Linked DNA regions of Homo sapiens. The protein of the gene in region 3 interacts with the protein of the main gene of each other region in a pairwise test. Each region holds a gene or a part of one and is shown on either strand. Other genes may lie near its edges.

The links.
Region 1: the proteins of CYB5R3 (region 3) and TNFRSF10C interact in binary tests that used the Homo sapiens proteins (3 or more experiments, as listed by UniProt).
Region 2: the proteins of CYB5R3 (region 3) and VAMP4 interact in binary tests that used the Homo sapiens proteins (3 or more experiments, as listed by UniProt).

Annotation. Positions count from the first base shown.
Region 1 is NC_000008.11:23,101,283-23,105,030, reverse strand, and holds the start of TNFRSF10C (tumor necrosis factor receptor superfamily member 10C precursor), read right to left. Parts: upstream 2,111-3,748; 5' UTR 1,910-2,110; coding exon 1,850-1,909; exon of another isoform or gene 1,473-1,849; intron 1-1,472. UniProt on the Homo sapiens protein: Receptor for the cytotoxic ligand TRAIL. Lacks a cytoplasmic death domain and hence is not capable of inducing apoptosis. May protect cells against TRAIL mediated apoptosis by competing with TRAIL-R1 and R2 for binding to the ligand.
Region 2 is NC_000001.11:171,721,409-171,725,156, reverse strand, and holds part of VAMP4 (vesicle-associated membrane protein 4), read left to right. Parts: intron 1-3,748. UniProt on the Homo sapiens protein: Involved in the pathway that functions to remove an inhibitor (probably synaptotagmin-4) of calcium-triggered exocytosis during the maturation of secretory granules.
Region 3 is NC_000022.11:42,647,503-42,651,250, forward strand, and holds the start of CYB5R3 (NADH-cytochrome b5 reductase 3), read right to left. Parts: upstream 1,891-3,748; 5' UTR 1,814-1,890; coding exon 1,793-1,813; intron 1-1,792. UniProt on the Homo sapiens protein: Catalyzes the reduction of two molecules of cytochrome b5 using NADH as the electron donor.

The DNA.
Region 1 (3,748 bases), on a different chromosome or scaffold from region 3:
GCATTGACAGAGCCAGGACCTGGGGTCAGGAACTGAACTCAGCTCCAGGCTCATCTGAAGTCACCCTGACAGGCTGAGGATGGAGACCTTATCTCCATTCACAGGCATGGTGGGTGGCAGGGACTGGCCCCAACTGACCAGGGTTTTCCAAGTGCACAGCTCAGAATTCAGTCTTCCCTGCTGTCTCATCTGGATACCCTGGTCTACTCCCAGTACCAAAAAACTCCTATATCCTTGAAAATTCCTAATACCATGAGGAAACAAAAATACATAGCAATGTGATGTGTTATGTTTTACATCTTAGACTAGTAAAGAATGAAAGCTAAGTGTAGCAAAGGTGTAGGGACACAGGCACATTTGTGGACTAGGTGTGACTGTAAGCTGGGTTCAGTGGTTTTTTGGAGGAAAATTCGTGAACATTTAAAGAAACTTCTGAAGTCATTTATCCCACAGAAGGAGAAGTAGAATTCAACTTGTAAGGAGTTGCCCAATAAGCTGGTGTGCATGGATATGTGGACACACGATACATACAAGGGTATTTAGTACAATGCTGTTGGAATTAGCAAAGGCCGTCAGGATGGGATCTAACCAGCTGCCCCTAGGCGGCAACAGTGAATTAAAATGTGGCTTACCCATGCAGTAAAATACAATACCCTTGTTTAAAAGAAGATCAATCTGAATGTACTGCCATAAAACATCTAATGTGATTTGTGTTAGCTCCAAAATTTAACAAAGTGATTGTACATTTAAATGCATTTAATAAGGCAAGACTGATGGAGGGATTAAAGCCTCCTTTGGGACGCATAGAGTTCACATTCCCAAAACCGTGAAACTGATGTTGCTGGCCTTGTCTACACTGGTCATCCATGCATTCTCTCTTCAGGGCCACTGTCCTGACACAGCCATTCTTCTAGCTGCCTCAGGTAAGTCCACCCACTATAAACTATTTTAAAAGTCAGTTGTGTAATTTTTGAGAGGTGAAAATGTTACTGCTTTTCTGAATTTAGCATTAATTTGTAGAAAGACAACATGCAAACTCTCATGGTTTCTGTAACCTTGCTTTGGCCTTTTCTTTTTCTTTTTTCTTTTTTTTGTATTACATAAAGAATCTTAAAAAGGGCTGTTAGCAAAAACCTCAATCAATCTGAAAGAGACCTAGAAGTCTGCATATTTTATACATAATATGTCCTTGCACTCACACTACTACCAATCTCAGTTTCCAAAGCCAACTCACAACAACTTTACACCGTTTATGCTGAAGGAAGGGGCCAGCCCCGGTCCTGCCTATGGGATACAGAGGGGACACACGGGTGGTAGTGGAAGACATTAACCAAGGCAGCACCTTGGTTAACCGCTTCCTGCCACATTCCGGCTTCCTGCCACTTTCAGGACAGAGGAGGTGAAAGTTGCTAAAGACAGCGCTGAAAAGTTTTTTCACTGGCTGTTGGTTAAACCGATCTCCAAGGAACACGTTTAAGAATGTAAACATGGGGTTAATTTTATTAACTAATTAATTAATTAATGAGAGAGGCAACCGCTCTGTGTCTTCAGGAGGCTCACTCTATGGGTTCCACCTTGACTCCCTCCCTCTCTCGATTCTGGAACTTCCCTCCCTTCGCGGGCTCGGGGCAGCCAGGGGGACCGCCTCTCTGCTCCCTCGCGGCCGGGTCCCTCCTGCCCAGCCCGGGGACCCAGTTCTTCCCCTGACTCCGACGGCGAGTTCGTCCTGCCCGGACATGCCCGGCCGCAGGTGACCAGGGCCAGGCATCCCTGCCGTGTCCCCGTCTCCCTGCCCCCTCCCGGCGCCAGGTGCGCTCTTCCCCAGCCAGGGACCGCGGCCGGGACTCACTGGCAGCAGGACCGCGACGATGACGACGACGAACTTTAGGGTCTTGGGGATCCGGGCCATGGTATGGTTCCCGACGCCGTCCTGGGTCCTGGGTCGCACCCTGCCTCGGCCATCAGGCGGCCGGGGCGCTCTGTCCCCAGAGTTCCCTAACGGTAGGAAGCGCTCCTTCACCCCTTGCATCTCTGGTCAAACTCCCAAAAATCTATCAGAAATCGTTGGCTGAGTTCGTGCGCGTGGAGAGGTTCCCACAGCTGCACTGCCAGAATCGGAGCGCAGCGCCTCTGAATTTATACCCGCGGGGGAAAAGGCGTGGTCACTTGTCACTTGCAGCAGTCACTTCCAAGCACTCAGAAAAGGGGCATGGCCTCCCCTAGCACCTCCAGGAAGGCCTGGGTTTTGGTGGTGGGTGCATGGACGGACAGGAACTGGCTCTTTCCGGCAGCGGTGACCCAGGGCCTGCGGTTTGATTCCGGGTCCTGTCCAGGCTGTAGGCAGCAGAAGGGGAAGGAGCTGAGGCGCTGCCCACTGCGCTGCTGTAGTCTGGGTAGTGAGCTCCAGAGGAGGCACTGGAGGCCCATCCTGAGCCTGCTCCCTCCCCGGGACGCCTGTCTCTCCTCTTCTTAAACCCTGAACTACCTCCTGGCCTAAGGACTTCAGTCCACTCTTAGCTTCTGCTCCCACTCCCTCCTCCCACAGCGGCCTCACTGACCAGTGCACTGATGCCACTGATGTCTCCAGCCTCCTTGCTGCTGTGACCCAGCTCCAAGCTTCTCTGGCAGGGGCTTGGTATCCCTCAGTAGCGGGTGCCTGGCACCAAGGAGGGGCCCAGTGAACACATGAGTGGACAGAATGAAGGACACAGGGGCCATGACGGGCACATGCAGAGGCTGAGGAGTAGGTAGGAGGGAGAGGAACCCCGGGGGCATCCCTAGCCACAACCTGGCACCCTTTGCATGGTCGAGGCACAGACACTCTCTGGCCGACCTTGTGGGCTCTAGTATTGAGGCCCCATGGACAGAGGAGGCCCAGGGGAGTGGCTTCCAAAGCCTGTCCCCCAGTCAAGTGTCTATCCAGGTCCAACTATCTGACCTTGGGCTACTCACCTCCCCATTGAGTTAAGCACACTGCTGCTGTGTGGAGAGATCCAATGTGTGGTACTGAAGGGTGCCAGCCTGTGACCCTAGGCAGTAAGGTCAATGGCACAACTCCTAGACCCTTGGGGTGAGTCGGCTCCTGACCTCTCACATGGTGGATAAAAGAGGATAGCACTATAGAAACAAAGATTTTTTTTTCTGCTCATCAGAAACCTGGGAATGATATGTCATCCTCTCCACAGGCTTGGATTTGAGCAATGGAGTGCCCTGGGCACCTGCCAGGCCCCAGGCACTGAGTTCGGATCAGAAATGTGTGCCAGGTCGCAGGCACTGAGAAATGTGTGGAGTCAGGAATGTGTGCTGGGGGCAGATCTAGGCAGGAGGTGAGAGGACAGGACTTCAGGAAGACTGACAGCATTAACACAGAGCCACGAGGGCCTGCAGGAAAGTCTTTAGAGCACTCCAGGCCCCTTGGCCCTGGAGGGTGGACTACACAGTGTAGACTAGAAACCAGACTGCAGGTAACACACATTCTCTGTGCCCTGTGTGGAGCACTGCCTAGGGCTAATGGCAAAAGGCTGTGAGCACCTCCAGGGAACTGGGCCTTTAGACTATAAAGTTTCCATTTGAGAGGCACTTACTAGCTTACGATGGAACACTAGCTGAAGCTCCCCCTGTGACTGAAGGACATAAAATAATCTTGAAACCTGAAAAACTCATGATGTCTTCAGAGATCTTGGAAAAGCTCTAACGGGGAGGGCAGTCCCCGAAGAGTTCTATTACAAAATGGAAATGGTTGATACGG
Region 2 (3,748 bases), on a different chromosome or scaffold from region 3:
AGGTACCTAGAGTAGTCAATTTCATAGAAACACAAAATAGAATGGTGTTTGCCAGGGCTTTTGAGGAAAAGGGAATGACAAGTTAGGGGACAGAGTTTCAGTTTTGAAAGATGAAAAAGTTCTAGAGATGAATGGTGATGACAGTTCATTAAGTGAATTACTTAATGCCACAGAACTGTATGCTTAAAAACGGTTAAAATAGTAAATATATGTTATATATATTTACCACAATAAAAATTTATTGACTATATATGTGTGGCTCTATTTCTGGACTCTATGTGTCTTTCTTACATCAATACCATAGTAATCACTATCCTGAGTACTACGACTTTATAGTAAGTTGTGAGGTAGTGTAGTGTATATCCTTCAACTTTGCACTGCCTTTTGAAAGTTCTTTTGGCTATTGGAGGCTCTAAGCATTTTCATATAAATTTTAGAATCATCTTGTCAGTTTCCAGCAAGCCTGCTAGAATTTTGGTTGAGATTATATTGAACCTATAGATGAATTTGGGGATAATTAACATCTTAACAATATTTGGTTTTCTGACCCATGAGCATAGTATATCTTTTTATTTATTTGGGTACTTAATTTCTCTCAGCAGTGTTTTGTAGTTTTCAGTGTCCAGATGTTGTATTTTTTTCTTTGTCAAATTGATCCTTAAGTATTTTCTTTTATTTTTTATTATTATACTTTAAGTTCTAGGGTACATGTGCACAGTGTGCAGGTTTGTTACATATGTATGCATGTGCCATGTTGGTGTGCTGCACCAGTTAACTCATCATTTACATTAGATATATCTCCTAATGCTATCCCTCCTCCCTCCCCCCACCCCATGACAGGACCCGGTGTGTGATGTTCCCCACCCTGTGTCCAAGTGTTCTCATTGTTCAGTTCCCACCTATGAGTGAGAACATGCGGTGTTTGGTTGTCTGTCTTTGCGATAGTTTGCTCAGAATGATGGTTTCCAGCTTCATCCATGTCCCTACAAAGGACATGAACTCATCCTTTTTTATGGCTGCGTAGTATTCCATGGTGTATATGTGCCACATTTTCTTAATCCAGTCTGTCACTGATGGACATTTGGGTTGGTTCCAAGTCTTTGCTATTGTGAATAGTGCCACAATAAACATATGTGTGCATGTGTCTTTATAGCAGCATGATTTATAATCCGTTGTGGGAAGTCAGCGACCCCGAATGGAGGGACTGGCTGAAGCCATGGCAGAAGAGCATAAATTGTGAAGATTTCATGGACATTTATTGGTTCCCCAATTTAATACTTTTATAATTTCTTACACCTGTCTTTATTGCAATCTCTGAACATAAATTGTGAAGATTTCATGGACATTTATCACTTCCCCAGTCAATACTCTTGTGATTTCCTGTGCCTGTCTTTACTTTAATCTCTTAATCCCGTCATCTTCGTAAGCTGAGGATGTATGTCGCCTCAGGACCCTGTGATGATTGCATTAACTGCACAAATTGTTTGTAAAGCATGTGTGTTTAAACAATATGAAATCTGGTCACCTTGAAAAAAGAACAGGATAACAGCGATGTTCAGGGAACAAGGGAGATAACCATTAGGTCTGACTGCCTGAAAGCTGGGCAGAACAGAGCCATATTTCTCTTCTTACAAAAGCAAATAGGAGAAATATCACTGAATTCTTTTTCTCAGCAAGGAACAGTCCTGAGAAAGAGAATGCATTCCTAGGGGAGGTTTCTAAAATGGCTGCTCTGGGAATGTGTGTCTTATATGTTGCAGATAAGGGATGAAATAAGCCCTGGTCTCCCAGGCCTATTAGAACGAGGAAATTCCTGCCCAGTAAATTTTAGTCAGACCAGTTGTCTGCTCTCAAACCCTGTCTCCTGATAAGATGTTATCAATGACAGTGCGTGCCCGAAACTTCATTAGCAATTTTAATTTTGCCCCAGTCGTGTGATCTTGCTCTGCCCCCATTTGCCTTGTGATATTTTATTGCCTTGTGAAGCATGTGATCTCTATAATCCACACCCTATTAGTACACTCCCTCCCCTTTGAAAATCACAACAAAATCTTGCTGGTTTTGCGGCGTAGGGGGGCATCACAGAACCTGCCGACACGTGATGTCTCCCCCAGACACACAGTTTTAAAATTTCTCTCTTTTGTAGTCTTTCCCTTTATTACTCAGACCAGCCGACACTTAGGGAAAATAGAAAAGGTCCTATGTTGAATTATCGGGGGTGGTTCCCTTGATATAATCCTTTGGGTATATGCCCAGTAATGGGATGGCTGGGTCAAATGGTATTTCTAGTTCTAGATCCCTGAGGAATCGCACACTGACTTCCACAATGGTTGAACTAGTTTACACTCCCATCAACAGTGTAAAAGCGTTCCTGTTTCTCCACATCCTCTCCAGCACCTGTTGTTTCCTGACTTTTTAATGATCGCCATTCTAACTGGTGTGAGATGGTATCTTATTGTGGTTTTGATTTGCATTTCTCTGATGGTCAGTGATGATGAGCATTTTTTCATGTGTCTGTTGGCTGCATAAATGTCTTCTTTTGAGAAGTGTCTGTTCATATCCTTCGCCCACTTTTTGATGGGGTTGTTTGATTTTTTCTTGTAAATTTCTTTACGTTCTTTGTAGATTCTGGATACTAGCCCTTTGTCAGATGGGTAGATTGTAAAAATTTTCTCCCATTCTGTAGGTTGCCTGTTCACTCTGATGGTAGTTTCTTTTGCTGTGCAGAAGCTCTTTAGTTTAATGAGATCCCATTTGTCAATTTTGGCTTTTGTTGACATTGCTTTTGGTGTTTTATTCATGAAATCCTTGCCCATGCCTATGTCCTGAATGATATTGCCTAGGTTTTCTTCTAGGGTTTTTATGGTTTTAGGTTTAACATTTAAGTCTTTAATCCATCTTGAATTAATTTTTGTATAAGGTGTAAGGAAGGGATCCAGTTTCAGCTTTCTACATATGGCTAGCCAGTTTTCCCAGCACCATTTATTAAATAGGGATTCCTTTCCCTATTTCTTGTTTTTGTCAGGTTTGTCAAAGATCAGATGGTTGTAGATGTCTGGTATTATTTCTGAGGGCACTATTCTGTTCCATTGGTCTATATCTCTGTTTTGGTACCAGTACCATGCTGTTTTGGTTACTGTAGCCTTGTAGTATAGTTTGAAGTCAGGTAGCGTGACGCCTCCAACTTTGTTCTTTTGGCTTAGGATTGTCTTGGCAATGTGGGCTCTTTTTTGGTTCCATATGAACTTTAAAGTAGTTTTTTCCAATTCTGTGAAGAAAGTCATTGGTAGCTTGATGGGGATGGCACTGAATCTATAAATTACCTTGGGCAGTATGGCCATTTTCACAATATTGATTCTTCCTATCCATGAGCATGGAATGTTCTTCCATTTGTTTGTGTCCTCTTTTATTTCGTTGAGCAGTGGTTTGTAGTTCTCCTTGAAGAGGTCCTTCACATCCATTGTAAGTTGGATGCCTAGGTATTTTATTCTCTTTGAAGCAATTGTGAATGGGAGTTCACTCATGATTTGGCTTTCTGTTTGTCTGTTATTGGTGTATAGGAATGCTTGTGATTTTTGCACATTGATTTTCATAATTTCTGATGCTACTAAAAATGACATTTCAGATGGTGTTTCAAAATTTTAAAATGTCATACTTATTGCTAGTATAAATATCATTTTGTAAATTAACCTTGTATTCTACAATCTTGCCAAACCCACTTAGTTTTAGTAGTGTTTTTATATATCCT
Region 3 (3,748 bases):
TTTGGGAGGCTGAGGCAGGTGGATCATCTGAGGTCAGGAGTTCGGGACCAGCTTGGCCAAGATGGCGAAGCCCAGGTGTGATGGCGAGTGCCTGTAATCCCAGCTACTTGGGAGGCTGAGGCAGGAGAATTGCTGGAGCCCAGGAAGTGGAGGTTGCAGTGAGCTGAGATCATGCCACTGCACTCCAACCTGGGTGACAGAGAGAGACTCCATCTCAAAAAAAAAAAACTTAGCCAGGCATATTGGCACGTGCCTGTACTCAGGACACTGAGGTAGAAGGATCACTTGTGCCCAAGAGGTTGAGGCTGCAGTGAGCTATGATCGCGCCACTGCACTACTGTCTGGGTGAGAGACTCTTCTCAAAAAAGAAAAAAGAAAAAAGAAATGTATGGAGCAGCCAGGTGCAGGGGACGTGGCCATAAATCCAACCACCAGCTGGAAGGTATGGAACACCACCAAAAACAGCAGGGAAGGGTTGGGTGGAGACCAGGGGAAGCTTTAGAGACACAGGCAGGACATTTCAACAATAAAGGAGGCAGATGCTTTCTGGGGAAAAATGGGCCGGGTGTTGCATGGAGGTTGGGGTGATGCCCACAGGTTCACCCTGGCCAAGGTTGCCTGGGGTCTGAACATCCCGAAGTTCTGGGTTGGGCCACACTTTCCTTAGCAACCACCCAAGCCAAGAGGCCTTTTGCCTGGATCCCCAAGGAGGAGACTCCAGGTCCTCCCCAAGGAGGGAGGACCCAGGTGCCCTCCAAGTGGCAGATGCCAGGCATAGAGGTAGAGGTGGAGGTGGAGGAGCACTGGGCTGATTCCTCCTGTGCCAGCCTCCCCACGCCTAGCGGGTCACAGTTGACAGGAGAGCTGCCCTCTGCAGCCGCAGCCTCCACATGTCCACACAGACTCAAGCCTCCAGCCTCACCATGGTCAACTTTTGAGAAACTGGGGAGAGGAGGTGGCCTGGGGGGAAGGGAAGGTGGCTCTAGGCCAGCCCAGGAGTGACAGCAGCAGAGTGGACTTTGAAACCCCATGGAGCAGGCTCCTTCCGGCGGCAGCGTTGTGGGACGGTGGCCAAGACTAGTTTGCATTTCCCCATCTGTGAAATGGGGCAAACAGCACTGACACCGCAAAGTGTGAGGTCCCCAGCACAGCTTGCAGGGTCAGTGGGAGCCTGGCCTTGATGGGAGCCTGGCCCACTGAGCATTGGGAGGATGCCCCCGTGTCATCCGGGTTCTGTTCCTTGTTGCTAAACGTGCAAAACCCTCTGACATAGTGACATCGCACACACACACACGTTCAGTCGCAGTCAGTGACATCGCCCATTCACATACTCCCGTACACACACACACACCCCATCACACGTTTCCATGCCCGCCCTTCACACCCACGGTCACACTCACACACACATTCACTCTCAAGCCATTCACACGCTCGCTCACACACTCACACTCAGCGGCACACACGCTCACAACCACGGGTCCCTCCAGCAGCCAAGGCCCCACGGCGGCCAGGGCAGGGCCCAGGTGCCCCCGGGTGCTGGGCTCTGGCGCGCCCCCCGGGCAGGAGGGCTGGGTCCCCGCTGCAGACTGCCAGGGCGTAAGTAGCGGTCACCACGTAGCTCGCCCAGGCCCTTGTGGGGTGGGGTGGGGCGCGGCGGGCTGGGCGGGCGAAGTGGGTGCGGCCGGGTGCGGCCCGGGTCCCGCGTCACCTCCCGCAGGCCAGCCCGCCCCCTCGCCGCCGGGTCCCAGTCCCTCGCGACGCCCCGCGGCCCCGGCGCCCCCTCCCCGCCTACCGTGCTGAGCTGGGCCCCCATGGTGGCCCCGCGCCGCGCTCGCTCTGTCGCCGCCGCCGCCGCCGCCGAGACCGTCGCGCCCGGGCCCGCGTCACTCCGGAGCAGGGGCGGGGCCGAGGGGCCAGGCGGGCGCGCGGGGCGGGGCGGGCGCGGGGGCGGGGACCGGGTCGCTCCGCCTGCTTCTGCCGGGGATGGAGACTGGGAACTGGGGATGCGGCCCTCTGCGCTCCGAGCTCTCCCGCCGCTGTGCTGCCCCGCGCGGGACGGTGGCCTCTCTGGGCCTCGTTCGCCGCCATAAAGGAAGCAAGATGGCGCCCCCCGGATGGGAGCGAGAATAAGAGGCGGAATCTTCCCCCGGCCTCCGAGACTGCAGGGGCCGGTCCTGCCTGGCCTGGCCTGGGCCTGTGCCTGCAGCTGCTCAGCGCGGCCCTTCCCCGGGCCTTTGAATTTGTAGTTCCCTGGGCAGCACTGTTCCCAGCTGCCTCGGGCCGGGTTAAATGCTGCGGTCTCAGCACGGCCCGCCCGGAGCCTCCTCGCCGGCGGCGCCTCCGCTCCCCACGCCATTGTCCCACTGTGGAGTGATCTTTGTCCCACTTAGCTGAAGGCCTCCTGCGTGTTTCCCCCACTCCCACCCCATCCCAGTGGACTGTGCGCTCCCGGAGGGCAAGGCCCTATCTGGTTTGAAGTCCCGTACATCCCCAGAGCCTAGCCACACAGAGCCTAGCATATAGTAGGTGCTCAATAAATACCTTTTTTTTTTTTTTTTTTTTTGGTAAAGCAGGGTCTCACTCTTGCCCAGACTGGAATGCAGGAGCCTGATCACAGCTCACTTTAGCCTCAACCTCCCAGGCTCAAGTGTTCCTCCTGCCTCAACCTCCTGAGTAGCTGGGCACATGCCACCACGTCCGGCTAATTGTTTTTTTTTTTGAGACGCAGTTTCGCTCTTGTTGCCCAGGCTGGTATGCATTGACGCGATCTCGGCTCACCGCAAACTCCGCCTCCAGGGTTCAACAGATCCTCCTGCCTCAGCCTCCCGAAATTACAGGCATGTGCCACCACATCTGGCTAACCAGCTAATCTTTTTTTTTTTTTTTTTTTTTTTTTTTTTGAGACAGAGTCTCGCCCTGTCCCCCAGGCTGGAATGCAGTGGCGCCATTTCGGCTCAATGCAAGCTCCGCCTCCAGGGTTCACGCCATTCTCAGCCTCCCGAGTAGCTGGCACTACAGGCACCCCACCGCGCCCGGCTAATTTTTTGTATTTTCAGTAGGGACGGGGTTTCACCGTGTTAGCGAGGATGGTCTCGATCTCCTGACCTCGTGATCCGCCCGCCTCGGCCTCCCAAAGTGCTGGGATTACAGGCGTGAGCCACCGCGCCCGGCCTAATTTTGTATTTTTAGTAGAGACGGTGTTTCAACATGTTGGTGAGGCTGGTCTCGAACTTCCGACCTCAGGTGATCCACCTGCCTCGGCTTCCCAAAGTGCCGGGATTACAGGTGGGAACTACCGCGCCCGGCCATTTTTGCATTTTTTTGTAGAGACGGGTTTCACTATGTTGCCCAGGCTGGTCCGGAACTCCTGGGTTCAAGCCATCCTCCCACCTTGGCCTCCCAAAGTGCTGGGATTATAAGCGTGAGCCACGATGAGCAGCCTAAATACTTGTTGAATGGATGAATTTGACAGACAGTGGGCACCTTCTCTGTGTAGGCTCATGCTGGGCCTTAGCGTCATTCTCTTGCCTTGCTCTCCTGGTAGGGTCTTGGACCCAGATGTGAGCTCCTGGTGCTCTGAGGGGATGGGGTGGGCTGTGTGTTCAGGCAACGTGGCACAGACCAGGCAGAGAAAGGGAGAAGCGCCTTGCTGGCAGGGCCTGGAGGTGGAGACAGGTGAACAGAGGCCTGATGGGCAAGGTTAGAGGGGCTGATACAGCCGAGCTGGGGTGTGATGTGACGTTGGGGA